Regions from separate parts of the Homo sapiens genome. Here all the other regions are linked to region 3. The links come from fine-mapping of genetic effects on gene expression. A gene starts in region 3. Each other region holds a variant in brackets. All regions are shown on one strand. Distances are from middle to middle.

What was found. PIP is the estimated chance that this variant, and not a neighbour inherited with it, causes the effect. A credible set is the group of variants that fine-mapping cannot tell apart.
Region 1: its variant is the best candidate, but not a certain one, in a credible set for the expression of PPHLN1 in whole blood (TOPMed, PIP 0.87).
Region 2: its variant is the best candidate, but not a certain one, in a credible set for the expression of PPHLN1 in whole blood (TOPMed, PIP 0.68).
Region 4: its variant is the best candidate, but not a certain one, in a credible set for the expression of PPHLN1 in whole blood (GTEx, PIP 0.68).

What each region holds. Positions count from the first base shown.
Region 1 is chr12:42,425,798-42,430,797 of GRCh38, forward strand. All of the region lies in intron 9 of PPHLN1 (periphilin 1), which reads left to right. Among named protein-coding and RNA genes, the nearest start is that of PPHLN1, 100 kb to the left of the region's middle. The variant A/T (reference allele first, on the strand shown) is at 2,994.
Region 2 is chr12:41,974,499-41,982,331 of GRCh38, forward strand. No RefSeq gene overlaps it. Among named protein-coding and RNA genes, the nearest start is that of GXYLT1, 170 kb to the right of the region's middle. The variant G/A (reference allele first, on the strand shown) is at 3,498.
Region 3 is chr12:42,323,286-42,328,285 of GRCh38, forward strand. It overlaps PPHLN1 (periphilin 1), which reads left to right and starts at 2,882. Exons shown (of 10, transcript NM_201439.2): 1 at 2,882-2,944. ZCRB1 (zinc finger CCHC-type and RNA binding motif containing 1) reads right to left here and starts at 2,809. Exons shown (of 8, transcript NM_033114.4): 1 at 2,639-2,809; 2 at 734-819. The coding sequence starts at 817. MIR7851 (microRNA 7851) reads right to left here and starts at 574; the gene lies at 415-574. RefSeq lists an enhancer at 2,505-2,554.
Region 4 is chr12:42,456,705-42,464,537 of GRCh38, forward strand. It overlaps PRICKLE1 (prickle planar cell polarity protein 1), which reads right to left. Exons shown (of 8, transcript NM_153026.3): 7 at 7,691-7,833; 8 at 53-3,961. The coding sequence ends at 3,105. Among named protein-coding and RNA genes, the nearest start is that of PRICKLE1, 130 kb to the right of the region's middle. The variant A/G (reference allele first, on the strand shown) is at 3,699.

The DNA of each region.
Region 1 (5,000 bases), 100 kb after region 3:
CAGTTTGATGTGTCCTTCTAGGTCCTGTGTGTGTATACACGATACAGGATTTTAATATTGAAAGAAATGGGATAGTAGAGTGAATGTGCCTGGTCCACTGGATCATCTGTCAAAAGAAACTAAGGAAGAACTTGCCGCCTCTGCAGGATAATTTGAAAATGTCCCATTTCAACCATAAAATGCTCTTTAACCAACCAAAGCATAAGTAGCTTACAGAATAATAATGCTTTTCCCAGCATGGGGCAGATGGCTGATCTGACCTATTTATTTCTATCTTAGTGGCATCCCTGAAGCTATATGGAAAAATAATCCACGTTTCAAATTTCACTAGAGGAATGACTTGAATAACTTAAAGTACAGTATTAGACTTGACACCACACACACACACACACACACACACACACACACACACACACACACACACACACACACCCTCATGCATTGTCTCATGGCAGTTAGGAATCATAATCAGATGACCTGCCTTCCAGACCCCTCCAAACCAGTTTCTTTACACTACTCTTCAAAACCAAGCAAGTTCATTTATCTTTGCTAAGGATTTAGTTCAGTCAGGGCTTCATTTCTATTTTGGATTTTAATAATTATCTTGAGTTTGTAGCAGCAGTATGATAAGGAGTGAATTTGAAATCTAGGCTATGAATGTTTATTGTATTTCTTACAGTTAACTCCTTTAATCTCTCTGCTTCACTATTTTTATAAAAAAAGGCCAATAACTCCAGAGTGCTTTTGAGGATTCTGGTACATAAAATAATACAAAGGTCTATATGAAAATGTTAAGTTAGTAACTTAATACTTCTAATTTGCCAGGAATTTTTAAATGTCATTATATTTGAATAAGCAAATAAAAAGACCTTTAGAATTGTAACCCACAGCCATCCTTAGACATGGAGACCTTTGCTAGGATTCCTCCCCATTCTCCAAAAATTGTTCTTAGGTGGTGAGGCCTCCCTGAATTGAGAACTCAACTCATTGGACCCAGTAACAGTTAAAACTTCTATGTTCTGAGACATAACTTCTGTATCTTCAGAAGATAATGCGACCTATATATTGAATTGTCTCTGACCTCTTTGGTGGTAGATGAGCTGGGAAGGAAGTGGAGGGGGTGGGTCTTGAAATAGCTAAGCTGCTTCCCGCTTAGTCATTCCTGCTGACAAATTTCTCTCCTGTTGGAGAGTAACTGGGTGGATCTCGCGCCGTGCAGGTTTCTCAAACCAATGTAAGACTTTTTTTCACTTCGAGAACTGGCTGTTGCCAGTTAATTACTTTCTTTTAGCCTTAGTCAGATCTAAAATGTGACCTTTTGTACAGTCAGGACATTGCACTTTTCTGATAATATTAAATTATTTCATGAAGACTGGACTACCTCATCTGTGAAATTGTAAAAAGATTTATTTGAAGTTATTGTGTTTAAAATTTTTCTTTGGATAATTCTCAAATATTTCTTTTGTAAGAAATAGCTGTATATAAAAATTAATTCAGTGTTTACATAAGAATTTTGCCTTTTTAAGCAAAAAGAAAAGTCTGGAGGCATCACATTACCTGATTTCAAACTATACTGTAAGGCCATAGTCACCAAAAACATCATGGTACTGGCATAAAAACAAGCACATAGATCAATGGAACAGAATAGAGAACCCAGAAATTAACCCAAATACTTACAGCCAACTGATCTTCGACAAAGCAAACAAAAACATAAAGTGGGGAAAGGACACCCTATTCAACAAATGGTGCTGCCAATGTAGGAGAATGAAACTGGATCCTCATCTCCCACCTTATACAAAAATCAACTCAAGATGGATTAAGGACTTACTTACATCTACGACCTGAAACTATAAAAATTGTAGAAGACAACTTAGGAAAAACCCTTCTAGACATTGGCTTAGGCAAGGATTTCATGACCAAGAACCCAAAAGCAAATGCAATAAAGACAAAGATAAATAGCTGAGACTTAATTAAACTAAAGAGCTTTTACACAGCAAAAGGAACAGTCAGCAAAGTGAACAGACAACCCACAGAGTGGGAGAAGATCTTTACAATCTGTACATCTGACAAAGGACTAATACCCAGAATCTATAACGAACTCAATCAAATCAGCAAGAAAAAAAACAATCACATCAAAAAGTGGGCTAAGGACATGAATAGACAATTCTAAAAAGAAGACATACAAATGGCCAAAAAATATATGAAAAAATGCTCAACATCACTAATGATCAGAGAAATGCAAATCAAAACCACAATGCAGTACCACCTTACTCCTGCAAGAATGGCCGTAATCAAAAAAATCAAAAAACAGTAGATGTTTGGCATGGATGTGGTGAAGAGGGAACACTTCTACACTGCAGGTGGGAATGTAAACTAGTACAGCCATTATGGAAAACGGTGTGGAGATTCCTTAAAGAACTAAAAGTAGAACTACCATTTGATCCAGCAATCCCACTACTGGGTATCTACCCAGAGGAAAAGAAGTCATTATATGAAAAAGATACTTGTACACATATATTTATAGCAGCACAACTTGCAACTGTGAAATCATGGGACCAACCCAAATGTCCATCAGTCAACGAGTGGATAAAGAAACTGTGGTATGTATATATACAATAGATTACTACTTAGCCATAAAAAGGAACAAATTAGTGGCATTTGGAATGAGCGGGGTGAGATTGGAGACTGTTATTCTAAGTGAAGTCACTAACTCAGGAATGGAAATCCAAACATCGTATGTTCTCACTCATATGTGGGAGCTAAGCTATGTGGGGTGCAAAGGCATAAGAAAGACACAGTGGACTTTGGAGACTCAGGGGAAAAGAGTGGGAGGGGGGTGAGGGATAAAAAAGACCACATATTGGGTGCAGTGTATACTGCCTGCTCAGGTGATGAGTACACCAAAATCTCACAGATCACCACCATAGAACTTACTCATGTAACCAAACATCACCTGTTCCCCAATAACCAATGGAAAGTTTTAATACTTAATT[A/T]AAAAAAATGAAGTTTGCCTTTTTAACTTCTTTTTTTTTTTTTTTTTAACTTAAGGGACTTTCTAAGTGACAGATATCGTTTAGGGAGCTGAATTGCCATCTTAAACTGTGATCTGTTTCATTATGATGGATGTTTTGGACATGACTTGGGAAATGTGCAAATTAAGCCTACTCCTCCTTGCTTTTATTAAATAATTTTTATTATTCTCAGACACGACAATATCAAAAGCCAAATGAAATTTTATCATATTGCACAATATTTGTACCCATTTTCTCAGCATTTAGAACTTTAAAGCCTATTTTATTATGTATTTAATTGCCTTTCATCCTGTGTTCATTATGAATATTTTTCTTTAGATTTAGCCTTTTTATATGTTTTGCATCTTAGAAATTCTTTTCCCAAGCCAGTAATTGACATTGAATACAAAATTACTTTTCTCAAAATTCACTGAGCAATGAATACATTGGTTTTTTTCCTAATCAACAGTCTTTAGTTGTTTGTTTATTGCCTTTTGAATGAGAGAAAAAATGTCTACAGTGTTTCTACCATAAGTTATTTTAAGTCTAAGAATTTGGTCTTTGCCTTACCTGCTCATGTCTAGCTCCATTTTGATTGCAGTCTACTATCTTTCCCAAAACTTCCCTATATTCCAAGATTCATTACTGTTTAAACACTCTATGCTTTTTTGCTTCCAAGGTGCTTAGAACAGTTCACGCTGTCTTAGTGCTCCCTGCAACTCCCATGATCTTTTATTTGGAATAATTACAACACTTTATATTTATTTTATGGCATTTACCATATTCTGCCTTGTTGTTTGGTTATTTTTAATGTGTTGGTCTTTTTACTAGAATGTAAAGTCCTTGAACAGAGCTTGTTGTACTCTGACCAATTCCAGTGCTTTAACATAGAAGGTGAGCTCTAGCTGTGTGGCAGGCACATTTATCTGTCATTCACACTCATGTCAGCATTTGCAGATTCATTAATATCTAACCCATATCGAGAAGATGCAAAGCTCATCCTCCAGGGTCAAAGCAGAACAGATCCATCTTCATTTTATTTTGAAAATTTTTGTATACCCATCACCTGGATTCTATAATTAAGCTTTTGCTCTATTTGTTTTGTCACTTATCTTTCCATTTCTGGATGTAATAAGAAATATATATTTGGCTTCTGCCCCCATTTCTTGGCACACAGCTTGGAATCTTAAAGTGATGTGTCTTTTTGTATGTGAATGAGGTAACCAATGGCCGGGGGAGCTCCTGGATAGCCTCTGTTTAGGGGCTGATTGCCCAGGGAAACCAACCATGTGTTTAGAGAGTTGGAACTTTCAGCCTACCCCCTTGACCTCTAAAAGGGGTGGAGAGGGACTGAAGGTTGAGCCGCTCACCAAAGGCCAATGATCTAATCAACTGTGTTTTTGTGATGGGTCTTCGATTTTAGCTGCTCTTCTCTCTCTGTCTCTGACACAGACACACACCCCTACAGTCACACACACACACACACACCCTTACAGTTGATACTTGAACAACTCAGGGATTTGTGATGCTGTCCCCCCGCCACCCTTAACATTTGAAAATTCAAATGTAACTTTTGACTGTCCCAAAACTTGACTACAGATAGTCTGCTGTTGACCTATCAATAACATAGTCAGTTAACACATATTTTGTATGCTATACATATTACATATACTATATTCTTTTTTTGGTTTTGTTTTGTTTTGTTTTTTTGAGACGGAGTACCCAGGCTGGCGTGTAGAGTGCTATGGTGTGATCTTGGCTCACTGCAACCTCCGCCTTCCCGGTTCAAGCAATTCTGCCCCAGCCTCCCAAATAGCTGGGATTACAGGCACCCACCACCACGCCCAGCTAAATTTTGTATTTTTAGTCGAGACGGGGTTTCACCATGTTGGCCAGTCTGGTCTCAAACTCCTGACCTCAGGTGATCTACCCACCTCAGCCTCCCAAAGTGCTGGGATTATGAGCGTGAGCCACCGTGCCTGGCCAATA
Region 2 (7,833 bases), 350 kb before region 3:
GGCTCTGTTCTGTTCCATTGATCTATATCTCTGTTTTGGTACCAGTACCATGCTGTTTTGGTTACTGTAGCCTTGTAGCATAGTTTGAAGTCAGGTAGCGTGATGCCTCCAGCTTTGTTCTTTTGGCTTAGGATTGACTTGGCGAAGTGGGCTCTTTTTTGGTTCCATATGAACTTTAAAGTAGTTTTTTCCAATTCTGTGAAGAAAGTCATTGGTAGCTTGATGGGGATGGCATTGAATCTATAAATTACCCTGGGCAGTATGGCCATTTTCATGATATTGATTCTTCCTACCCATGAGCATGGAATGTTCTTCCATTTGTTTGTATCCTTTTTTATTTCATTGAGCAGTGGTTTGTAGTTCTCCTTGAAGAGGTCCTTCACGTCCCTTGTAAGTTGGATTCCTAGGTATTTTGTTCTCTTGGAAGCAATTGTGAATGGGAGTTCACTCATGATTTGGCCCTCTGTTTGTCTGTTATTGGTGTATAAGAATGCTTGTGATTTTTGTACATTGATTTTGTATCCTGAGACTTTGCTGAAGTTGCTTATCAGCTTAAGGAGATTTTGGGCTGAGACAACGGGGTTTTCTAGATATATAATCATGTCATCTACAAACAGGGACAATTTGACTTCCTCTTTTCCTAATTGAATACCCTTTATTTCCTTCTCCTGCCTGATTGCCCTGGCCAGAACTTCCAACACTATGTTGAATAGGAGTGGTGAGAGAGGGCATCCCTGTCTTGTGCCAGTTTTCAAAGGGAATGCTTCCAGTTTTTGCCCATTCAGTATGATATTGGCTGTGGGTTTGTCATAGATAGCCCTTATTATTTTGAGATATGACCCATCAATACCTAATTTATTGAGACTTTTTAGCATGAAGAGTTGTTGAATTTTGTCAAAGGCCTTTTCTGCATCTATTGAGATAATCATGTGGTTTTTGTCTTTGGTTCTGTTTATATGCTGGATTACATTTATTGATTTGTGTATATTGAACCAGCCTTGCATCCCAGGGATGAAGCCCACTTGAACATGGTAGATAAGCTTTTTGATGTGCTGCTGGATTCGGTTTGCCAGTATTTTATTGAGGATTTTTGCATCTATGTTCATCAAGGATATTGGTCTAAAATTCTCTTTTTTGGTTGTGTCTCTGCCCAGCTTTAGTATCAGGATGATGCTGGCCTCATAAAATGAGTTAGAGAGGACTCCCTCTTTTTCTATTGATTGGAATAGTTTCAGAAGGAATGGTACCGGTTCCTCCTTGTACCTCTGGTAGAATTTGACTGTGAATCCATCTGGTCCTGGACTCTTTTTGGTTAGTAAGCTATTGATTGTTGCCACAATTTCAGAGCCTGTTATTGGTGTATTCTGAGATTCAACTTCTTCCTGGTTTAGTCTTGGGAGGGTGTATGTGTCGAAGAATTTATCCATTTCTTCCAGATTTTCTAGTTTATTTGCGTAGAGGTGTTTGTAATATTCTCTGATGGTAGTTTGTATTTCTGTGGGATTGGTGGTGATATCCCCTTTATCATTTTTTTATTGTGTCTATTTGATTCTTCTCTCTTTTTTCTTTATTAGTCTTGCTAGCGGTCTATCAATTTTGTTGATCCTTTCAAAAAACCAGCTCCTGGATTCATTAATTTTTTGAAGGGTTTTTTGTGTCTCTATTTCCTTCAGTTCTGCTCTGATTTTAGTTATTTTTTGCCTTCTGCTAGCTTTTGAATGTGTTTGCTCTTGCTTTTCTAGTTCTTTTAATTGTGATGTTAGGGTATCAATTTTGGATCTTTCCTGCTTTCTCTTGTGGGCATTTAGTGGTATAAATTTCCCTCTACATATTGCTTTGAATGTGTCCCAGAGATTCTGGTATGTTGTGTCTTTGTTCTCATTGGTTTCAAAGAACATCTTTATTTCTGCCTTCATTTCAATATGTACCCAGTAGTCATTTAGGAGCAGGTTGTTCAGTTTCCATGTAGTTGAGCAGTTTTGAGTGAGTTTCTTAATCCTGAGTTCTAGTTTGATTGCACTGTGGTCTGAGAGATAGTTTGTTATAATTTCTGTTCTTTTACATTTGCTAAGGAGAGCTTTACTTCCAACTATGTGGTCAATTTTGGAATAGGTGTGGTGTGGTGCTGAACAAAATGTATATTCTGTTGATTTGGGGTGGAGAGTTCTGTAGATGTCTATTAGGTCCACTTGGTGCAGAGCTGAGTTCAATTCTTGGGTATCCTTGTTAACTTTCAGTCTCGTTGATCTGTCTAATGTTGACAGTGGGGTGTTGAAGTCTCCCATTATTATTGTGTGGAAGTCTAAGTCTCTTTGTAGGTCACTCAGGACTTGCTTTATGAATCTGGGTGCTCCTGTATTGGGTGCATATATATTTAGGATAGTTAGCTCTTCTTGTTGAATTGATCCCTTTACCATTATGTAATGGCCTTCTTTGTCTCTTTTGATCTTTGTTGGTTTAAAGTCTGTTTTATCAGAGACTAGGATTGCAACCCCTGCCTTTTTTTGTTTTCCATTTGCTTGGTAGATCTTCCTCCATCCTTTTATTTTGAGCCTATGTGTGTCTCTGCACGTGAGATGGGTTTCCTGAATACAGCACACTGATGAGTCTTGACTCTTTATCCAATTTGCCAGTCTGTGTCTTTTAATTGGAGCATTTAGTCCATTTACATTTAAAGTTAATATTGTTATGTGTGAATTTGATCCAGTCATTATGATGTTACCTGTTTCTTTTGCTCGTTAGTTGATGCAGTTTCTTCCTAGTCTCGATGGTCTTTACATTTTGGCATTATTTTGCAGCAGCTGGTACCGGTTGTTCCTTTCCATGTTTAGTGCTTCCTTCAGGAGCTCTTTTAGGGCAGGCCTGGTGGTGACAAAATCTCTCAGCATTTGCCTGTCTGTAAAGTATTTTATTTCTCCTTCAGTTATGAAGCTTAGTTTGGCTGGATATGAAATTCTGGGTTGAAAATTCTTTTCTTTAAGAATGTTGAATATTGGCCCCCACTCTCTTCTGGCTTGTAGAGTTTCTGCCGAGAGATCCACTGTTAGTCTGATGGGCTTCCCTTTGTGGGTAACCCGACCTTTCTCTCTGGCTGCCCTTAACATTTTTTCCTTCATTTCAACTTTGGTGAATCTGACAATTATGTGTCTTGGAGTTGCTCTTCTCGAGGAGTATCTTTGTGGCGTTCTCTGTATTTCCTGAATCTGAATGTTGGCCTGCCTTGCTAGATTGGGGAAGTTCTCCTGGATAACATCCTGCAGAGTGTTTTCCAACTTGGTTGGAAAACTTGGTCTCCCCGTCACTTTCAGGTACATCAATCAGACGTAGATTTGGTCTTTTCACATAGTCCCATATTTCTTGGAGGCTTTGTTTGTTTCTTTTTATTCTTTTTTCTCTAAACTTCCCTTCTCACTTCATTTCATTCATTTGATCTTCCATCACTGATACCCTTTCTTCCAGTTGATCGCATCGGCTCCTGAGGCTTCTGCATTCTTCAC[G/A]TAGTTCTCAAGCCTTGGCTTTCAGCTCCATCAGCTCCTTTAAGCACTTCTCTGTATTGGTTATTCTAGTTACACATTCGTCTAAATTTTTTTTCAAAGTTTTCAACTTCTTTGCCTTTGGTTTGAATTTCCGCCCATAGCTCGGAGTAGTTTGATCATCTGAAGCCTTCTTCTCTCAACTCGTCAAAGTCATTCTCCATCCAGCTTTGCTCCATTGCTGGTGAGGAACTGCGTTCCTTTGGAGGAGGAGAGGTGCTCTGCTTTTTAGAGTTTCCAGTTTTTCTGCTCTGTTTTTTTTTTCCCATCTTTATGTTTTTAGCTACCTTTGGTCTTTTATGATGGTGACATACAGATGGGTTTTTGGTGTGGATGCCCTTTCTGTTTGTTAGTTTTCCTTCTACCAGACAGGACCCTCAGCTGCAGGTCTGTTGGAGTTTGCTAGAAGTCCACTCCAGACCCTGTTTGCCTGGGTACCAGCAGCGGTGGCTGCAGAACAGTGGATTTTCATGAACCGCGAATGCTGCTGTCTGATCGTTCCTCTGGAAGTTTTGTCTCAGAGGAGTACCCGGCCGTGTGAGGTGTCAGTCTGCCCCTACTGGGGGTGCCTCCCAGTTAGGCTGCTCGGGGTTCAGGGGTCAAGGACCCACTTGAGGAGGCAGTCTGCCCGTTCTCAGATCTCCAGCTGCATACTGGGAGAAACACTGCTCTCTTCAAAGCTGTCAGACAGGGACATTTAAGTCTGCAGAGGTTACTGCTGTCTTTTTGTTTGTCTGTGCCCTGCCCCCAGAGGTGGAGCCTAAAGAGGCAGGCAGGCCTTCTTGAGCTGTGGTGGGCTCCACCAAGTTCGAGCTTCCCGGCTGCTTTGTTTACCTAAGCGAGCCTCGGCAATGGCGGGTGCCCCTTCCCCAGCCTCACTGCCGCCTTGCAGTTTGATCTCAGACTGCTGTGCTAGCAATCAGCGAGACTCCGTGGGCGTAGGACCCTCCAAGCCAGGTGCGGGATATAATCTCCTGGTGCGCTGTTTTTTAAGCCCATCCGAAAAGCGCAGTATTGGGGTGGGAGTGACCCGATTTTCCAGGTGCTGTCTGTCACCCCTTTCTTTGACTAGGAAAGGGAACTCCCTGACCCCTTGCACTTCCCGAGTGAGGCAATGCCTCACCCTGCTTCGGCTCGCACACGGTGCGCTGCACCCACTGTCCTGTGCCCACTGTCTGGCACTCCCTAGTGAGATGAACCTTGTACCTCAGATGGAAATGCAGAAATCACCCATCTTCTGCGTCGCTCACGCTGGGAGCTGTAGACCGGAGCTATTCCTATTTGGCCATCTTGGCTGCCCTCCCCCCATGTTCTGAAGTTTTACACAATTCTGTGAAAAGGATCTACTGGGGATCCTCAATATCTCTGAGCACCAATAAGCCAACAAGTCCGCTTGATCCTATCAGTGGTTCAACAGGAAGTCAGAGAATCAGTGCTCCAGTCTTCCCTGATGCTCACTGGGCTGCAGCACCTCCACCCAGGAGATGCAGCCTCATCCAAGATCCATACACCAGCAGCATCAGCATCATCTGAGAGAGAGTTAAAAATGCAAGAAAATCAGCCTCTGTCCCCAAACTTTCAGAATCACAATCCACATTTTAGTGAAAGAAGCCAGAATATGAAAGGTCAAGTACTGTATGGCTTTATTTATCTGAAGCATCAAGACCAGGCAAATCCATGGCAACAGAAAGCAGACGGGTGGTGGTCAGGAGCTGAGGGCAAGGGAGGAATGAGGAGTGACTGCTTGATGGATGCAGAGATTCCTTGAAGGAAAAAATGTCTTGGAACTAAATAGAGGTGATGGTTGCACAACACTGTAAATATATTAAATGCCACTGAGTTGTGCACTTTAAAATGGTTAATGATTAATTTTATGTTATGTGAATTTTACCTCCATAAAAAAATACCAAAAAAATCTATACCTTAAGATCCGCAGGTGATTCATACGCACATTGAAGTTTGAGAAGCAATCTCCCTACTAGATAAAGTATCAGGGATTTTCAGTCTGGCTTACAGAAACACTGATTTTCACTATAAAGTAGCAAAACTCCACTCATTGATACTAAAGCATCTAGTATTACAACATTAATGATAATCTAAAATATTGTGGAGACATTGTCTTAAATTTTTGGCATAGAAAATGTTAAAATTGCCTCACTTTTTACACTCTTTTTTCCCAAATTTTTCTACATATTCAATAGGGAAATTGCTAATGACAATAAGCCATCAATTGTGCTTCATTCATTAAATTTGAGTTTGTGCAATTTGTTCGTTGTTCTGAAAACTGTTCCCTAGCACCACCTATTTCTTCCTATTGCTTATTCAACTATAACATTCTTTGAATTTTTTTAGCTTTCACAGATTAACTCTCCAGAAGACATGTTACCCTGCTTGATATTCAGTATATATTTTCTGGTGACAGCTTTATGGTACAATTAAATTTCATACATTTTTTTCAGCCTTCCCTGAATATGCATTAGAAAGCCAACCATCATAATTCTAAGCCAATTGGCTTGATTTGCTTATTTAAGCCCACATCTAACAGGCCTGCTATATTTCCATACATTCCATCCCCATCTGCACTCCATCCACCTGCCCAAAGTTATTGATCATGCTGACAGTGAAGGAAACCACAGGGCCTTGACAGTCAAAATATAATTTCCATTAGAAAGCCCTTTAAAAAGTACTCAGGACTTTAAGATGCCAAACGGTATAGTGATGTCAGTTTAAACCAGGTCACAGAAGAAGCTGAAAATTGATTATCAACAGCAGACTGGACCTGCGCATTTCAAAAGTGTTATCAGCATTTAGAATAAGAAATTGTTAACACAACTTGGCATATGAGAAAAAAAACCCTGATGTTTAGATGGACTGAGTAACTTAATAAGGCTCATTTGGATGCAAAAATAAATGAGCATCAAGTTAACATTAACTTTTAATGCTTGCCATTTTATGTTAATTCATATTTTTAAATTATGGCTGATACTTTGCAATCAGTCTATGGCTAATTATATCTCCCACATGTAAATCTGATGGAGTGCTGGGACCAAAGAACAACAAAAAATATCCAACAAAGACTTTATAGATTCAGAACTGTCGCGTGCCTCTGTTAACTGGGAAAATCCAGCCTGCACAGAAAACCTCAAGCTCTGAACTTCAGTCACCATTGTTTTCCAAAGATCAAAGCTTAGCTTGCTTAACCATGAAAACCATATTGATGTATCCTGTTTGCAGATGTTTTTCCTGATGTTTTTCCTTGTAACTGATAGCTCTATCCTAAGACACAAGATTTAGGTGCTGAGTAGATGCAGACTGGACTTGTAGGAAATCTCCAAGCTAAAAATCATCTAAATAAAAAGGAATCAGGAGTCAAATACATTCTTTCACCTAAGAGTCTACATGCTTTTCAACTCCAGACACAAGGATTCTTCCAGTAACAAAAAGGATATCCAGATCCAGTTCTTTTCGTGAGGATGTATTCTAATGTACAGTCTTATCAGAAGCTTAGATTTTAGGAAAACAAAAAATAACAACTACCATTTAAAGAGAGTCTACCCTGAGCCAGCCACTTTGTAAATGCTGTTTTTCTTATTCTTCACAATAACCCCTCATGAGAAAACTGAAAGTCATCTGATCAAAGTTACAAAGCTAGTAAATGATCAAAGGAGAGTTTTCTAATTTAGGAGTTAAGTAGGTCTGGGTTGTTCAAATCCAGATGCATATAACAAATATTTATGTGTTCACTAATCACTACTGTAAGAATCCAACTTCTGTGTTCCATGAATGAAGACACTAAGGTCCAGAGAGGTTAAGCAACTTGTCTGAGTTTACACAGCCAAACTAGTGCCAAATCCGGGACCAGAGCCCAGATCTTCTCTCTGCTCAGCCATCATTTGTCCTCCACCTCAGGGCACAGATCTTTAAAGTACATGTGAGTCACTTGGGGATCTAGTTACAATGTAGGTTCTGATTCAATAGGCCTGGGAGGGGCCTGAAATTCTGAATTTCTACCAAACAAATAAAGTGACTATAGGGCCCAGGACCAATGCTGCACACCACACTCCCATCATCACTGGTAGAAATCAGAGACCTGGAGATGTGTTTCAGGATTTCAATTGGGAGAAATGATTATGTAAAATAATGTTTATGCACCACTAGAGTGACAAACTCCTCCCAATTTGCCTGGAATTTTTCCCAGTTTTAGCATTGAAAGTCCCACCTCCCGGGAAATCCCTCAATCCCTCAATCCCTGGCTAACTGGGATAGTCAATCACTGTATCCTCAATTGCTTTACATGCCA
Region 3 (5,000 bases):
TGTTTCATGCAGAGTGAAAGCCAGAGTCCTTACCATGATGTAAATAGGTCGTATAAGGCACCTCGAGTGGGCTTACCTAAGATTACCCCTCTTTTTCTGAAATGTTTGTCCTCTAGAATTTGCACAGGTGCCTCTTACTCGTTTCAGGTCTTTATTCAAAAGTCACCTTCTCAATAATGGCATTTCTGACCGCCCTATGTAAAATTTCACTTCCATTCCCAACTTAACGTTCAATAGCCCACCTTTCCTGCGTTATTTTTTCTCCTTAGCACCTAACATCTTAGCATCTCCTTAGTATCTAACACATAATTTGACTTAAATGTTCAATAAATATAGCTTCTATTTTTTTTTCTTTTTTTTTTTTGAGACAGGGTCTCATTCTGTCACCCAGGCTGGAGTGCAGTGGTGTGACCTTGGCTCACTGTCGCCTCGACCTCCTAGGCTCAAGCAATCTTCCAACCTCAGTCTCCCAGGTAGCTTGTAGAGGCATGGTGGCACACACCTGTATTCCCAGCTACTTGGGAGGATGAGGTGGGAGGATCACCTGAGGGGGCGGGGAGGCTGCAGTGAGCCATGATAGTGCCACTGCACTACAGCCTCGTGCCTCAGTGACAGAATTAGACTGTCTCAAAAAAAGAAAAAAAAAAAAAGGAAAAAAGAATTTGCCAGGGAGAACTATTTGCTTAAGGTTATCTGTATCTCAAATAGCAGTCACTCGATAAGATTTACTTACCCGGTACAAGTCATTGTTTGTCAGGGAAAAAGGCAAGTTGGATACATACACTGTGCTCTTACTTGGAGCCAATCCACCACTCATTTCTAAAAGTGAAAACAAACTTATCAGCAATCAGTCTAAACCAGGATTCTTTTTTTGTTGTTTGAGACGGAGTTTCCCTCTTGTTGCCCAGGCTGGGGTGCAATGGCGTGATCTCGGCTCACTGCAACCTCTGCTTCCCAGGTTCAAGCAATTATCCTGCCTCAGCCTCCCGAGTAGCTGGGATTATAGGCATCCACTACCATGCCTGGCTAATTTTGTATTTTTAGTAGAGACAGTGTTTCACCATGTTGGTCAGGCTGGTCTTGAACTCCTGACCTCAAATGATCCACCTGCCTCAGCCTCCCAAAGTGCTGGGATTACAGGCATGAATCACCACACCTGGCCTAAACCAAGTATTATTAATTCCAAATAAAACCAATACATCAGACCAGTCTGGGTATTATTTGGAAAAAAACAAAAAACAAAAACCAATAAAGTATTAACAATCACCGATTTAATTATGCCAGATGTGTACACCTTCCTTACATTTTAGGAAGTTAGGAACAATGACTCCAGCAGGCTGAATTAAGGAATTCCTTTTTCCCAGTCACCACTTAAAAAAAATTCTTTTTTGGTTCTTCTTCTTTCAAGTATTCTTTATACCAACACTTTCAGTGCCAGATTGTATGGGTAGGGAGACGGGTTTTGAACAGATGAAGGAAAAACCCTGAGGCTACTCCTAACTTCCACTCAGACCATGAGCAAAAAAAATGCTCTATTGAATATGTACTGTATATGTACATTACCTGCACCTTGCTCACCCAGGTCAGAAAGAGCATGGGGACTCAGACAGAACCTTAGCCACTGATTTTTGCTAATACACAGTCATGCTATGCTTAATGAAGGAGGTATGTTCTGAGTGTTACGTGATTTCACAGTGCAGACATCACAGGGTGTACTGAGACAAACCTAGATGGTCTAGCCTATTGCTCCTAGGCTACAACCTGTACAGCATGTTAATGTAGTGAATAATGTAGACAGTTGAAACACAATGGTAAATATTTACATAGCTAAACACAGAAAACGTACACTAAAAATATGGTACAATGTATTACACTCTTAGGAGACCACTGTGGTATATGTGGTTTGTTGTTAATCAAAAAGTTGTTATGCTGTGCATGCCTGTACTATGGCTGGGTACCTTTTTTGCTTGTCTTAATATTTTTTTTCTCTGGAGTGGTGTGTTAAGAGGAAAATTTTCTTTTCCCCTTTTAGTATGATGTTAAGGAGTAAATTTAAGCTTTATGTATCGACAATATAAACTTCTTTCGAAACGCTAATTTTGCTTATTGCCAAATTATGAAATGATACATTATATAAATAGGCTTGGTGCCTCGAAGAGACAGACCTGTAGGTATGTGTGTATATGTATATAAAGTTTACAAATGTAATCAGTAATTTTCACATCTTATCTTACAAAGTCAGCAAATTACCGTGAAAATATCAGGCTCAACCAAATTCAAATTTCTGATTTAAAAAGAGCGTGCGGTGTGTATTTGAGATGGGAAGATCAACCATCACAAATGGAAAAATACTGACTCTATGGCATGCCAATTCGTGAAGGAATGAGAAAACTGCCTCATGTTTGGTGTTATGGGGGAATTATTTAGAAAACTTCAGGAACTCAACATAGATACGTCGCTTTTTAAGTTTCTCATTTGAAACTATGCGTTACACGTTCTGCTGAGAGCCGCGAAGGCAGGCAGAGGTTAAGGTCCTGGAATAAAAAGGGTGGCGGGAGAGAGGGGCAGAGCGTTTTGGCAGCCGAGTCTGGGGAGGGGGCCCCGCAGGAGAGAAGGCCGCAGCTGAGGAGGCGTTTACCTTCAGGTGGGTTGGGCCTGGGAGACCAGAAGAGTGCGAGCCCTCGGCTCAGCTGGGGCTCAACCCCGACTCTTCGTAGCCGCTCGCAGCGGCCTTGGCATCACGAGTCCTGGGAGGGGTCAGGCGCGGAGAGCAGATAATAGCAGCCACGGTGCTTCTTCCCGACTGTTTGAGATCCGGGCCCCGAAGGCGGGCCCAGAGGCGAGCGCTTCGCTAACGTCATTGCGCGCGCCGGAAGTACCTACCTGGGATAACGGCGGCGAGCGGACGGCTGCATTTACGGGGTCTCCCGGAGGGCCAGAGTCGGTGAGCGCTTTTTACCTTTCCCAGAGATGGATGCAGAGCGTGTGCGGGCTGCTAAACGGGGGGGAGTGGGCGGGAGTTTTCTGTGTCGGGTCCTGGATTCTCCTGCCTTTGAATTGTGTGACAATTCTGCCCATGCGGTTGAGGGTGGAGAGACGCAGTGGAGTTTGGAATAAAGGGAAGTATTGAGTCTAAGATAGGGGTTCGCCTCTCTGTAGCGCCTTAATATGCAAGAAGACGACTGAGCTAGGTAACTTCAGTGACCCGAGAGGAGTCAGGAAGTCGGTAATTTTACTGAAGGTGTTCACGGTACCCAGCTATTAGGCACTTTGGGAACTACAAAATAAACAGACCTTTTATGTTTTGTTTTGTTTTGTTTTCTGGTGAAGATCTCAGTCTAGTTGGGGAGACGAGGTCAACTTGGGGAGAGTTGGATTCACAGAATGACTCATCTTTAGTATGGGTATGGACAAGTGTTGATCTTCTTGGCACCTTTTCTCTTCCTGTAAATCTATAATGGCTACGCACTGCTTTTTCTCTAAGAGGCCATAACATGCCCACCATTCCTACAGAAAAATCAGAACGTAATGCAAGGTAATTTATACTTCTGCCTACCAGCACATACAGACCAGGCCTCTAACCACTCCCTGGGAGCCTGCGTTCCAGCAGCCTGGAACCCACAGCCTCTCCTGGAGCCTGCACAATCAATCCAGAGTGAAGCCGATGTCTTCTATAGAGACGGAAGTACAATCCATCCAGGGCGCAGCTGAATTTTGAGAGGCCTGAATGCCTCCGTGGCCGACAGGAGACCGCTGGCACTAATTCTCTAGGCATACTTGTGGCCAGCCAAACTTACCATGCTTTACATCTCTGTTATCCTTGGTTACCGCCCAAGATGTAAGCTTCTGTGGTCTTCTGTGCTATAGTCTCATTTCCATGCTGCTTTGTGCTTTCTTTCGACTTAGGCTATCACTGCTTCTTCGTTTCTTCCCCATTTAACCCCTCAACACCCCATCTGTGCTTTCTGAAACCTCTATTTCCTGCTTAAACTATTTTACATATTCAACTTCTTTAGTGAAATTCTCCTTCATCTCCTAACCTTAACTATTGATAACACGTAGATTTTCCTGCCAGCCATTTCAGTTGAGCCCTTTCTCTGACCCTGCATTTAAAGGTTGGGCATGGCTGTAGCCATGTTGAACGGATTTCAATTCCTCAGAATACTTTCTTCCCTCAGTATCTTCACAAAGGCTCTTTTCTCTCTCTGGGACATTTGAGCTCCCTGTTTCCTCCTATCTTTTTCTGGATAACTTCTATTAAAGATCTGAGTTTAGCTGTCACTTTACTTGAGGGGTATACCCTAACTTCCATAGAGTTAGGTATTTTTGCTATGTACTCTTAGCTGTCCTGCACTTCCCTCACGGCATTTATCACATGTATCTTAATTGCTTCTTTGCCATCCCTACTAAGCGAGACTGTCGGTGAGGGACTGTGTTTGTCTCGTTTATCTTTGTAACTCCAGTAGCTAATACAGTTCTTGGCACATAAGACAGTCAGTTATTTCTTGAATGATTGCAGGTGCTGAAGGTATGCTGCAGAGATCAGGCAGTTAACGTTAATGAATACTTCACCCTTAGAAGGGGTCACCTGCCACTCAGCTACAGCTGATTGTGGCTATGTGAGAATATGATCCCAGTTTTGCCAGAACATCTAATTTTTTCAAAAAAAGTTGGAAATACCATTTTTTAAAAAGCATCCTCTCCCAGTTTTTAAATGTTGTCAGTGGAATAGAATTTTATTAAAAAAAAAAAAGTGGGTCAAACACAAGTCTCATATGGCCTATCAGTCACTAGTTTGGAATCTGTTTTAAGTCTTGTAGGGTTTATATAATGGGCTTTGTGGAGAATAATAGGTTTTGAGTTGGGCCTTGATGGACCGTTGGATGTTGAATGAGAGAATGGAAAAAGATATCCCGTTTGGAAAATAAACAGCTCCGTGGTAGTATGTGTTAGTCTGTTTGTGGCACAGTAAGGAAACAGGCATAATTATATGCTTTTGG
Region 4 (7,833 bases), 130 kb after region 3:
ATAAATTACCCAGTCTCGGCAGTTCTTTGTAGTAATGTGAGAATAGACTAAGTCGGCAACTATAGGCTTTATTTTCTTGCCAATTCTTTACAGAACTGTAAGGCAGTTGCTTCTTTCTTCCGTTGTAGATAGTCTTCTGTTATTGCTACAAACTGGGATTAATTTTTAAGCTTCAAAGTTACATTATTGCCAGACGCAGTGGCTCATGCCTGTAATCCCCTGCACTTTGGGAGGCTGAGGCAGGTGGATCACCTGAAGGTCAGGAGTTCGAGACCAGCCTGGCCAACTTGGTGAAACACTGTCTCTACTAAAAATATAAAAAATTAGCCGAGCATGGTGGCAGGCACCTGTAATCTCAGCTACTCCGGAGGCTGAGACAGGAGAATTGCTTGAACCCGGGAGGCAGAGGTTGCAGTGAACTGAGATTGTGCCGTTGCGCTCCAGCCTGGGCAACAGGAGCGAAACTCCATCTCAAAAAAAAAAAAAAAAGGAAAAGAAAGTCACATTATTATTGTGAATAAATATCTGCATTTCCTTAAGCCTTTGGCAGGCTATGTTACCCCTATCTTTTGAGAATGTACTTGAAAAGTGAGGGCAGTACCTTCACCTTATACCTGCATTTCTTCAGGCTAAGTATCACCTGTTTACTATTTATTATCCATCCTTTATAAGCAACATATTGCAACAGTCTTTTCTAAAAGGATGCCCACTTGTGGCAGCACAGGTTCTGAAAATTTCTTCAAAATCAAGAAATCTGCTAATACATTGAGAGGTTGTGATGGAACAAACACTCTCATTTACATTACATTAATGTAAATCAGGAGAATTTCTTTTGGAGGAAAATTGGCAATATCCATCAGTCTTAAATACGTAACCTTTGTCCCAGTAACTACGCTGCTCCCGATTTATGTGCACATGTGCCAGTGTAGCATAATGTATGAGGAAAGTCAACTCCATCATTAGGAGTAGGCTATTAAGCAGTCACTGAAAGAATGGGTAGACCTATATGCACTAACGTGAAATGTCCACATACAAAGGGAAAAAAGCATGTCACAGCACATATAGGTCACTACCACTTTTAAAAGACACATTTATACGAATGTGCTTTGAATGTCTGAAGGAGACACTAAAACTGGGTAAGAGTGGTTACTTCTGGGGAGAGGACCTGGGGGACTGGGATGAAGAATGGAAAGGAGATGCTGTCTCTGACTTTTGCCCTATTTGAATTTTTTTGTCATGTGTATGCACTTCCTTTTCATTGCTGATGGTTTTTTAAAGGCACCAGACCAGGGAATGTAAGTTACTGAGTGAAGAACTCTCTCACCATTGGTGCTTTTCTGAAGGGAATCTGTGTAGCCCAGATACAAACCCTTGTGTGGGACGGCTGTCCACCTACTACTCGCTGGTTTACCCATTGGACTTGTGTCTGTCCTCCCTAAGGCCAAATTTTCCCCACTCCAGTCTATATGGAAAAAATAAGCCTCTGTGTCTGAAGCCCTATTTCTGGCCTACAAGTGGGGCGTGTGGACACACGAGACAAATGGAGGTCTGTTAATGGTAGGGCAACTGCAAAATAAATCATGCCTGAACACAGGCACAAAATGGAAGTTATCTGGATACATTTGCAAAGATTTATATTCAGAAAGGTAGTTTTGTTATTTATTAAGTGTTTATTAAATGCCTCCCTAAAGGTCCTGGATGCCACTAGAACCTTTAGTTAGGACTGAGATGTATATGCAAGAGTGGCACATATCAAAATATCTGCTCATTGGTTCAGATCCAACGTAAGTTTTCCTTGAACCAGAACCTCATATTAACTTACAGTACTCAATGGCACAGCATCCTCTAATTTAAAGATTTTAAAACAAAAACATAACCAGAAGACCCAGTTTTCAAAATTGCTGTTAAAGGCCAACAAATTAGTGGGAGGGAAGGAATAAAAAGGAATAACCTCTCTTAAAATAACAAATCTACAAAGTCCTCTGCCACAAAAGCAGATCTTTGTCATTTCCCATGAGATAATCATCACCTTGCTGAAAATGAGAAAGGCACCCCCCGCAGGCAGGGGGAAAAAACCCACTCGCTGAAACAGCTTCTACTTGTTTTTACCATATATTCCAGGGGTTATGTGTGTGGAGGGGTTGTTTTTACATTTATACAGTTTACATTGCTTGACCCATAAGTAACACTTGTAAGATTAATAGGGCCATAGTTTTAAAGAGTACTTACATAGCCCCACCATGCATACAGAGCCTTTTTTAATATTGGAAAAAAAAATCAAAAAAAGTTGAATTTTCCATCACTAGGCAATGTAAATTTGACCATCTACATTTATAAACCCTGACTAAAATATAAGCAATCAGTTCATCCATAAATTCTGGTTCCCTGGCAAATCTAGCACTGCAGCGTAACAAACGGCTTACAATTCAGGGATATAAAAATATCAGCTTTAAAATCTGAACTGTACAGTATATACATTAATATTTGCACCGTTAAATTAGGAATACACTTAAGTCTATGAAATACTAAGTTATAAATAGCAATGTTTTTTGTTTTTTTTTTTCAATCTGTAGCTGGCGCTGATACAATACAATGTTTACCTGGCCAAAGAGGGTTCGAGGGGACAAGCTGGCCTCACAATAAGATGCACAGTGTTAGCTAGGTCATCGTGACAGGCATGCCTCACACCAAGACGGACTATCAAGACCTGAGCCGACCTGACTTACATAAATGACAAACACTAGTGCTTTACAAAGGTGGCTGGAGTTCTCCATCTTCTAAAATCAACATCCAATCCCCTTCAGTCAGCATCTTCAGTATTCCCTTGAGGACTGGAAAACCAAAGCAGCTACGTCCATCTGTAACGCACCCGCACCGGACAGGCACGAGATGTCACGTCCACCTGGCACCATCCAAAGAGGGTAAATTGGAGAAATCACACCTTTCAAATGTTAATCTGACACTGTAAACAGCAGTTGAGTTCTCATTTACATGGGCAAAGAAAGCACTTTAAACTATTTTCACAACTTTCCTACGGAAGAAAAGGAAACGATTCAGACGGTTAATGGCTAAGTTTTAAACAAATGCTCTGCATCACTACTTGGTTAAGAAATAATACAATTTTTGCCCTTGTGTCCCTTTTTCTTCTTGGATTTTGTTGTCCTCTGACCAAACTGAGGGGTGGGAAGTGCAGATGGTGGACTAGAAAGGTCATCTGTATAGTAGGCAAATCTCTGTGGCCGGGGTTGAGGGATTGGTTGTCCAAGAAAATATCCTTCTTCTTCCGAGTCGGAAGAGGAGGAGGAGGAAGAACACCAGGAATCATCATCCTCGCCGTAGAGTCCCAGAAACCGATTCATTCCTGGGTTCTGCAGGCCATAATCGGAAGTGGCATGGGCGTACTGTCCGTAGAGATCAGCATTCTGGATGTATGCTTGGATCTCCCGGGCACTTTTATTCTGTATAAATTTCTCATAGTTATCGGGGGTGTACAGCCGCAGTCTGTCCTTGGGAGAGTATTTTCTTTCTGTAACAAGATTCAGGGCATTGTCGGAGCGGGACTTTCTACTTCTCCGGCGGCGGTGGTGATGAGACCTGGATCCCCTCTCTTCAAAATTGTAGACGCGTCTCCGAGTCCTTTCACTCATCGGAGGCTGCCGGATTTCAATGTCATAGTTCCCATTGTCAATGACATCATC[A/G]GAAAACTTGACCTGCTGGGGTCTGGATTGAGACTTGGACCTTCTGAGCACTGGCAGATGTACTGGCTTCTCTTCAGGCAGGATTTTCTCTGGACACAACTCTGAACTTAGACTCTTTAAGGACTCTGCACTCCTGTGCAGCATGGAAGAGTTCAAAGTTCCCATATTGCTCATCTTCTCACAATCTTCTGTTTCCATCTCCTCAAAATTTTGCAGAGAATACAATGATGGCCTTGGCTTGTTTTCTCCATCCACCGAAGCCCCTAGAAGAGAGGCCAAAACAAGATGTGCTTCTCAATCATCCTAATATTCGACAGTACTTAAAAGTAAGCTACTGAAAGGAAATATTTCAAAGAAAATTTCCAATCTCAATATTTGATTAAAACCCATAGGGAAAGCCAACATGTATCTATGCCAATTGAGAAGTGGTATAAATGCAGTTATTGTTATAAGGGGTGGGCACAGCCTTTTTTGTTTTGTTTTTTTGTTTTGTTTTGAGACAGAGTTTTGCTCTAGTTGCCCGGGCTGGAGTGCAATGGCGCTATCTCGGCACACCACAATCTCCACCTCCCAGGTTCAAGCAGTTTTCCTGCCTCAACCTCCTGAGTAGCTGGGATTACAGGCATGTGCCACCACACCTGGCTACTTTTGTATTTTTAGTAAAGACGGGGTTTCTCCATGTTGGTCAGGCTGGTCTCGAACTCCCGACCTCAGGTGATCCACCCACCTCGGCCTCCCACAGTGCTGGGTTTACAGGTATGAGCCACTGCACCTGGCCTGGGGCACAGGTTCTCTTATAAGCCTGGAGTCAAAGATTAGTTAAGTAGTTACGGCACATGGCATGAGCAGCAAAACTTTAAGAGCTCTTCACAGCAGCCTGTTCATTCATTAACATAAGATGTAGAAGCTTCTGCTCCTCAATTCATTAAAGCCACACTGCTTCATTTGGAGATCTTTCACATCAGTCCCTCCTTGGTCTCCATCATGAGCTAGTCTTCCTCATCTTATACTGAGGCTAGTGGTCAGCAAACTACAGCTCAACAGCTTGTTTGTGTATCAAGTTTTATTGGAACAGCCACACCTATTTGTTTACATATTGTTTATAGCTGCTTTCTACAGTGGCAGAGCTAAGTAGTCACACCAGAGACCGTAGGCCTAAAAAGGGCTATCGAGCCCATTATAGAAAAGGTTTGCTCAACCCCTGACCTAGATCTTCATCCAGTCTTTTCTGCCTTCAACGTGTAAAATATGCCACTTCCAGATTAATCTTCTATTGAAACATTTAACAAAACAGATATTGATCTCTTTTGATATAATAGGACCCAGGCATGTTAAGATAAATACATATAGCCCTATAGACAAAGTGATACTGTTGTCAACTGGAGACTACATAACTTCGTACTTATTTTTTTTTGAGATGGAGTCTCGCTCTGTCGCCCAGGCTGGAGTGCAGTGGCACCATCTCAGCTCACTGCAAGCTCCGCCTCCTGGGTTCATGCCATTCTCTCACCTCAGCCTCCCGAGTAGCTGGGATTACAGGCATGCGCCACCACGCCTGGCTAATTTGTTGTATTTTTAGTAGAGACGGGGTTTCACTGTGTTAGCCAGGATGGTCTTGATCTCCTGACCTCGTGATCTGCCCGCCTCGGTCTCCCAAAGTGCTGGGATTACAGGTGTGAGCCACCGCGCCCGGCCCTATATAACTTCATACTTTTTAAAGGGGGCCTATTTTTCAGCTTATTATTGTCAAGGAATGTCAGCCCCTAACACTTAAATGTGTACCAAGTTATGTTTAATTCTTTTATTTATTTTTTTTGAGACAGAGTCTTGCTCTGTCACTCAGGCTGGAGTGCAGTGGTATGATCTCGGCTCACTGCAACCTCCGCCTCCCAGGTTCAAGTGATTCTCCTGCCTCAGCCTCCCGAGTAGCTGAAATTACAGGCACATGCCACCATGCCTGGCTAATTTTCGTATTTTTAGTAGAGACAGGGTTTTGCTATGTTGGCCAGGCTGGTCTCGAACTCCTGACTTCAGGTGATCCACCTGCTTTGGGCCTCCCAAAGTGCTGGGACTGCAGGTGTGAGCTACCACACCTGGCCAAATTATGTCTATTTCTGATATTAAATTTAAAACTCCTAGCACTGGGCCTGGCAGACAAAAGGTGCTTACTCAGTCTCACCCACCATTCTTCCTCAACTCCCCTTTATTGCCGGCCTTATCTTTGACAAGTCCACAGAAGCCGGGGGGGTAGCTTTGCCGTACCCTTCCTTGTCACTGCAGTGTCTGGCACAAGTTATTCCTGGCAGGAAGCAGCTACTAAGCCTTTCCTGTCTACATTACAGAAGCATTACCTTCATCAAAGGGCTGGATGTCAGTAGTTTGACTATAAAACTAGCCATGCAACAGCAACATTTCTATAATCCAAAGACTTGTTGCAAATAATTTGCATAATGTCCTAGGTTCTAGGCCTAATCTTGCCTTTAGAACCTATGTAATGTTTGGCATTTAGCCTTTTGGTAATTCAAGTTTCCTCATTTGTGAAATGCAATCATATCATCCACTCTATATAGCTCAGGGTCATTTTAAAGATAAAATGTGGATAACTGGTATGACTGTGCTTTGAAAACATTAAAGTAGGCCAGGGGCAGTGGCTCACACCTGTAATCCCAGCACTTTGGGAGGCCAAGGCAGGTGGATCACCTGAGGTCAGGAGTTTGAGACCAGCCTGTCTCACAAAAATTAGCTGGGCGTGGTGGCAGGCGCCTATAATCCCAGCTACTCATGAGGCTGAGGCAGGAGAATCGCTTAAACTCAGGAACCTGAGAGGCAGAGGTTATAGTGAGCTGATATCGCGTCATTGCACCCCAACCTGGGTGACAAGAGTGAAACTCCATCTCAAAACAAAACAAAAAACTAGGAAAAAAAAGAAAACATTACAGTAATATTTTAGAATCTAAATAAAAAGTATTCAGCTGTTTTTGAGCTACTGTCACAGGGAAATTCAGGAAGATGTTTAAAAAAAAAAATGAGCTTGTGGCCAGGCGTGGTGGCTCATGCCTATAATCCCAGCACTTTGGGAGGCTGAGGCGGGTGGATCACCTGAGGTCAGGAGTTCGAGACCAGCCTGGCCAATATGGCGAAACCCCATCTCTACTAAAAATACAAAAATTAGCCAGGTATGGTGGTATGCACCTGTAATCCCAGCTACTGGGGAGGCAGAGGCAGAAGAATCACTTGAACCCGGGAGATGGAGGTTGCAGTGAGGTGAGACTGCGCCATTGCACTCCATCCTGGGCGACAAGGGCGAAACTCCACCTCAAAAAAAAAAAGAGCTTGTAAAGTGTGTGGGCCAATTTTGGTATCTTAGAATACATACAGAATAATTCAAGCGTACAATATCTTTCAGACACAATCCAGTTGTACACTCCTTCCTCCAATCAATTTCCTTCTCTTCAAAACAGGGTAATAAAACCTATCCCTAAAGACTGCACTGTAAATATATTTTATGCACATGCACTCACCTCACACATGTGTTTGTTTTGCTAGTGTTTGGTATTTAAGTGAGGTTCCTTCCTTCCCTTGATCCATGGTTTTGAATAACACACAACTCCTACTCATGCTGAATTGCAATTTTTTTTTTTTTTGAGATGGAGTCTTGCTCTGTTGCCCAGGCTGGAGTGCAGTGGCGCAATCTTGGCTCACTACAACCTCTGCCTCCTGGGTTCAAGCAATTCTCTTGCCTCAGCCTCCCGAGTAGCTGGGATCACAGGCCCATGCCCAGCTAATTTTTGTATTTTTAGTAGAGCCGCGGTTTCGCCATGTTGCCTGGGCTGGTCTCGAACTCCTGACCTCAAATGATCTGCCCACCTCAGCCTCCCATAGTGCTGGAATTATAGGCATGAGCCACTGCGCCTGGCTTGAATTGCAATTTTTTGAATACACTTTTTAGTAGCTCCTTTTTTCAAATACCCCATAATCCCTAGATTACGTACCTGTGATATTGGACAATGCCAAAGAATCCATCGAATCCCGAACACTTTGCTCTGGTTTCAGGTCTGACAGACACTCCAGGGAATCTTCATACCACTGTGTTTCATCATGATTATACCCTGAAGCCCCATGGTCCAGTTCCAAT